Linked DNA regions of Homo sapiens: region 1 is linked to region 2. Evidence: fine-mapped expression QTL. Tissue or cell type: subcutaneous fat. Region 2 holds a variant in brackets; the other region holds the start of a gene. All regions are shown on one strand. Distances are from middle to middle.

Region 1 (2,912 bases), 140 kb after region 2:
TCAGATCACGCAGTTCATGGAGCCACTGGGGCTTCTCTCCCTCACCTGGCCTGATGTTTTCAGGCGGGGTGCGGTGGGTCAGGCCTGTAATCCCAGAACTTTGGGAGGACGAGGTGGGCGGATCACTTGGGCCCAGGAGTTGGAGACCAGCCTGGGCAACATGGTGAAACTCCGTCTCCACCAAAAATACAAAAATTTTGCTGGGCGTGCGGGCGCACACCTGTGGTCCCAGCTACTCGGGAGGCTGAGGTGGGAGGATCGCTTGACCCCGGGAGGCGGAGGCTGCAGTGAGCCGAGATCCCGCCATTACACTACAGCCTGGGCGACAGAGCAAGACCCTGTCTCAAAAAACAAACAAACAAAAAAAGTTTTCCTTAAGGAAGGGATGGACTGGGGAGGCCTGGCTTGGGGGTCACTCCTAGGTGGCGACGCAGACCCTGAGCGCTTGCTTTGCAAGGGGACGAACTGAGCCATCTTTTTGCTATCATTTATCCGTCCCAAATAAGCAGCTCTCAGAAAGTTTCCGTTTTGAAACTTCTCCGACACTCCTATCCCGGGCTGGCTCCGGGCGCCAGAGCCGAGAGGAGTTACCTGCGAGACCAAGCCCCCCCGCCCCCGCCGCCCGACCCCCGCAGGAGCCAGGAGGGTGCCGGGCCGCGCAAGTGGGGTGCTGGGCCTAGACAAGAGGCTGCAGGACACCACCCGCTCCCCCCATGCTCAGGACTGCTGACACACGAACCCCTACAAACGCGGCCGCCCTTGCCCGCCAGCTTGGCCCCTAGCTTCGCCCCTTCTTCCTCTCCTTCGACCACCCCGACCCCCCTCCCCAACGTACCGATCCAGTCCCCGACCCTGGGAGACTCACCCTGCCACTCCAGGAGCCGCTCGGGGGTAAGCGCCGCCGCCACACCCTCGGCGCAGCCCCGCGGCGCCCCCAGCAGCAGCAGCAGCAGCAGCGACGGCGACAGCAGCATCGCTAACCACTGGGCTCTCCGGGAGCCCCTTGTCCCGGGAGCCCCTTATCCCGGGAGCCCAGAGCCGCGTCCCAAGCACCCGGCCCCGCCGCGCGGAAGCGGATCCGTAGCCTCCTCCGCGCCCCACCCCCTCCGGGGGCCTTGCCAGCCCAGAGCCCTGGAGACCCACTCCGCCACCGCTGTCTCCACAGTGAACCGACACTCGGGGCTCTGGGCTGGGATGCGGGAAAGTCGCGGAGGTTTTCCTCGCCCCACCCACTGCGGCTTGGGGAAGGAGGAGGAGGAGGGGTGGGCCATCTGCCCATCCCAGAAATTCCTGCCTTTGGGGTGGGGACAGGCGGAGTGAGGCTGCTCGGGTCACACTCTCCGCTCCTCTAGCTTGCAGCCCTGCTCTCTCCTTTCTGGGGGAGGCCGAAGAGGAGTTGTGGGTGAGCGATTTGAGAATCTCCGGGACAAGGAGCCTGACATCCGGGTTTGCAAACCACCTGGATTCTGGTAAACACCGCGGATTTGCAGCGGGCAGCCTAGAGTGAACCCAGCTGCTCCGCGACGCAGGCGCTTTGGGAGGGTCCTGGACTCCTTTGACTTGTGGAGCACTGGAGACACCTGAGGGGCCACGCCGTGGTCTCCACCTTCCTTGCCCCAGAGTAACCCGGAGATTCTTCTATTCAGCTCCTTCGGTTTTGAAATAACCTCCTCTTTCCAACTCCTTTGATCCCCCAAGCCCCGCAAAGTAGCCGGGGTCCCTATTATCCCATTTTTACAGCTGAGAAACCCTGCCCAGAAAGTCGAAGTGCTTTGCTCTAGGTTACTTCCTAATCCAGCAAAAGTTACTCTCTAGCAAGTAGGACAGCCCTGGCTAGAATGTAGTCGTTCTAACTGTCCTCCTTCAAATAACCAGCAGAACACTGGAAGCGTTTAATATTCTGAGAACAGGCTCATATAAGACCTTTCCTCAGCGGGACCTTGACATTAGTCATTAAAACATAAGAGAGGGGGAGGGGAGGGGCAGAAAGCAGAGCCTGGAAGGAAATGCCTAGCAGGGAGCAAGATTGAAGGTCAGAGCCAAATGGGGAAGAAGGGAAAGTGGTTGCCTTGGCCATGGCCTTAACAAAAGGTGCTCAGTCCTGCAGGAACCTCAGAGAGCCTCAGAACTGTCTGTCGAGGACAAAAGGGGCAAGCGTTTATCCATGGACTTTATCCTTCCCTGTTGGTAAGGGAGATCCTAGGGTTATTAACTCCTCTGCACTGTTCTACAGCAGTGGTGAGTTTCAGTCATGGTCCCATACCTTGTCTCTTAGAAGCCCTGGGTGCATAGCATGGCAAAAGGTGAGGCGCTGTCAGGTTGTTTCTCAGAGGGTTGGGGGGTGGGGGACAGCCGGGGGAAACAGGCTGCAGAGGGGGCTGGAATAAGAGGTGGGTTGAGAGGATGTGAGAGGTTCCAATGTGTGTAGAGTTTATAACATATCATTACATGTAGAATTCAGCATCCTTGCTTGAAAACATGCAGAAAAGAGATGCTTTAAGCCTAGTAGATTACACAGACTTCAGCCACAAACTATGTATCCATCTCTCCTATGGCCTCAGAACTACATTGCTATGGGAATATCCCCGTAGTATTATGATAGAAGATTTGGCCCTGCCCGAGCAGGCTGGCATGTATTGCAGCAGGCAAGTGCAATGCACATGACATAATTAGGTCATAAAACAGGACACTGATGCTAATCTCTGGTGAGGTCCAGGGCAGTGAGAGTAAAGGGGAGAGAGACTAGGCTGGAGTGGGCATAGAGGCCTAACTATGCTCAGATAGTATGGTGGGTATTGGGAGGAAGAGGCTGTTCTAGGATGGGAAGAAATTGTGAAAAAAAAAATTATACAAAGGTTGGAGTGAGAACTGCTTGTATGGGAGAGAGTGAGGCATGCCTGGCTGAAATAAAG
Region 2 (2,912 bases):
ATCTCAACATCCTTAACTGAATCCCATCTGCAAAGACTTTGCCACATAAGGTAACATTCGGATTCCAGGGATTAGGATCTGATATCTGTAGGGACTACTCTTCAGCCTAGGACATTGTCATTTGCTTCTGAATCGAAGTCTCTCTTATTCAGATCTCATTGGTGGAGCCTATGTCCCATGCCTGCTCCTGAGCTGCGAGGAGGCTGGGGAGTAGCTTCATGTCAGGAAAGGTGTTCAAAGATGAAAGCAGCCAAAATGGATGTCAAATATCAAGTACGATAGTCTTCAAAGATTCATAAAAATGAAATTCTATGTAATGGACCAGCCAGAATCTTTAAACTGAAAGAAGTTACCTATTGCTGAATGCTTTGGGCACCAAATGCCAAGCCATGCAAGTACTGCTAAGGAAAGACCATTTACCTAGAAAACAGTTTTCTTTTACTCTGGGGGCTGGGGGGGGGGCGGTGCGAACAAAAATAAAAAAATAAAAAATAAAAACACGAGAAGTGGATTTGGGGTCGTGTTCTTTTTTCGCTCCCAGGAAAAATCTGTTCCAGACCCCAGTATGGACAATTTGGTTAGATCCTATATTTTGTTAAGAATAACAGTTGGTTGTATGTCACGGTACGTTCCATTTCCAATCTGGTCTGAGGCATATTACTCCTGTGGTGCCCCATGTTGTCCAATACATTTATGGCAATAAGGACTTGGGCAATACGATGTGGATAACTTCTGTTTCCTCAACACTTTGATATGTGATTTTCAAACAAACCAAAATGATCCTTCTTATATCTGCCCCCTTTCCCCGATACACATGTATTTCTCCATGTCAGCAATGAATTTTCCAGCTCCTCTCACCTGTATACCTGTTAAAAACAATGGTGCTAACTCTTATTTTCCACGTCAGTTATAAAAAAAAACAAACAAACAATCAATTAGGATCTTGCATGTCTTAATTGTGTTACGGCAATGGTAAGCATCTTACAGGCTGCACAGTGTCTGCATTACTTCTCCATTGTAGGGGTGCGTATGTGTGTATTGACAAGGGGGAGAAAGCCATGTAAAAGATAACTGAAATTAGCATTTACAGCAACTATGTAGATGTCAATATAAATACATTTTGGGCTCTTATGTATAAATAATCTTCTGAGAACATTGTTTTTATTGTTGACACTTTCCTGCAGGTTTCTGAGACACACTTAAAATTCAATCTGTTCCCTTGAACATTTTTGTGAATTTGGCAGCATAATAAAAACTTTCTTTTAGAAGGCCTGGAATCAAAGCAAAAAAAAAAAAAAAGTTGTGGAAAAAAATGATTTTTTCTTTAATCTTGGAGGCTTCCTATTTCTTTGTTGAGAGGTTTTGTTCAGGAAGGGACTGTAGTAATATGATCTGATTGACAAGGATCCCAGCTCCCCAAACACTAGCTGAAAATTTGGGGCAAATTCCTGACCCTTTCTGGTGCTCCATTTCTCATTATAAGATGAGAATAATAACCAGGTCACCTTCTTATTTTTCAGCAACAGTTACTTTCCCCTTTCTTAGA[T/C]GGGATTGGCATTTTTAGAAAAGTATATTTTAGTGCTTGTCTCTCCCTTGGGTTCTAGAGTGGTTTTGTGTACATGAAACACTGACAAAATGCCCGTCTCTGTTTTGTCCCTGAACCCCTGATTTGATGTGACCTTTTTGGTGGGGGGAGGAAGGATGAAGGAGAGCTGGAGAGGTTCTGGAAGCTTTACTCTATGAATTAATACTTCTGCTTCAGCATAATGTTGGTATTTGATCAAACGTAAAAAGCTTCAAGCTTTTAATGTCCTGCTGACACCAGTATCAACAAAGCACTGAAGCGGAAGCTTTCTGGCAGCTGATTAGAGGGAGATTTTATTTCACTAGCTTTAAGACTAAGTATACCTTTTAGTAGATCTTTCTCAAGGATAAGCTACCTCATGTATTATAAATCAAATTCAAGAGATTTAATAAAGAACCCTTGATAATTTGGTAATATATTATCACTGTGTTTTGGAAAGGCGATAAATGACTGCTTTTTATAGTGTAATTTAAAATAATAATATGGATTACAGTTGTGTTCAGTCATGAAAGTATAATTTAGCAGTTTGGGCTTATAATAACCTTTTCTTTAGTGTCCACACTTATTTTAGATCAAGAATGGCTTACTTGGGAATGATTTACTATGCTTGCTCCCAGAGTCTAGTAGGGCTGAACATGTGTTTAATTGGAATTTTATGTTGTTGTGTTGGAAAAGCTTCCCACAAAAATGAAATGGAAAGTTGGGGGAAAAAAGATGGCTAAATAGTGAGCCATTCCAATATCAAAAGCATGTGGCATGTTTGCAAGCTTGCTGTATAAGTAGGGGCTCTCCAGGAAATGGGTGGCTCACTCGAAGTGGTCACTGGAGAGAGTTTAATAAAGGGACTACTGTATTTATAAAGGTGTGAGAAGGTTAAGGGAAGTAACAAGGGATGATGAACTACCCCTTCCCCCCACCCAGCTCCATGGAGCAGGGAGCCTTCACCACCCCAGGCCTGAAGAGACAGTGTGTTTGCTGTTCCTGGATCTGGAAAACACTGAAGCTATGGAGAGGAGCAGGTGACCAGCACTGCGTCCCCGGTGGAGGAATGTGGCCAGTGCTAGGTTCCAGCAAGGCAAGGAGGGAGCCAAGGGGTCCCAAATCTCCAAACTTGCTTACTTTCCATCTTCAAATCTCCTTTCCCAGCCCCACACTGGGCTGGACCCAACCAAAACTAGAGGGCAAGGACACCAAGGGACATCATCTGAGGCACAGAGCAGGGTAAAGAAGGGTGGAGTGTGACTTTGGAGGAATAGCCATCATCCATACAGGACTGGGAGGGAGGAAGGGTAAATAAAACTGATGCTAAAAGACTTTGCATTCATAT

The links. PIP is the estimated chance that this variant, and not a neighbour inherited with it, causes the effect.
Region 1: it holds the start of PLA2R1, and the variant in region 2 is the best candidate, but not a certain one, in a credible set for the expression of PLA2R1 in subcutaneous fat (TwinsUK, PIP 0.81).

What each region holds. Positions count from the first base shown.
Region 1 is chr2:160,061,430-160,064,341 of GRCh38, forward strand. It overlaps PLA2R1 (phospholipase A2 receptor 1), which reads right to left and starts at 1,186. Exons shown (of 30, transcript NM_007366.5): 1 at 866-1,186. The coding sequence starts at 974.
Region 2 is chr2:159,924,278-159,927,189 of GRCh38, forward strand. It overlaps a transcript of PLA2R1 not described here. Among named protein-coding and RNA genes, the nearest start is that of LY75-CD302, 21 kb to the left of the region's middle. The variant T/C (reference allele first, on the strand shown) is at 1,547.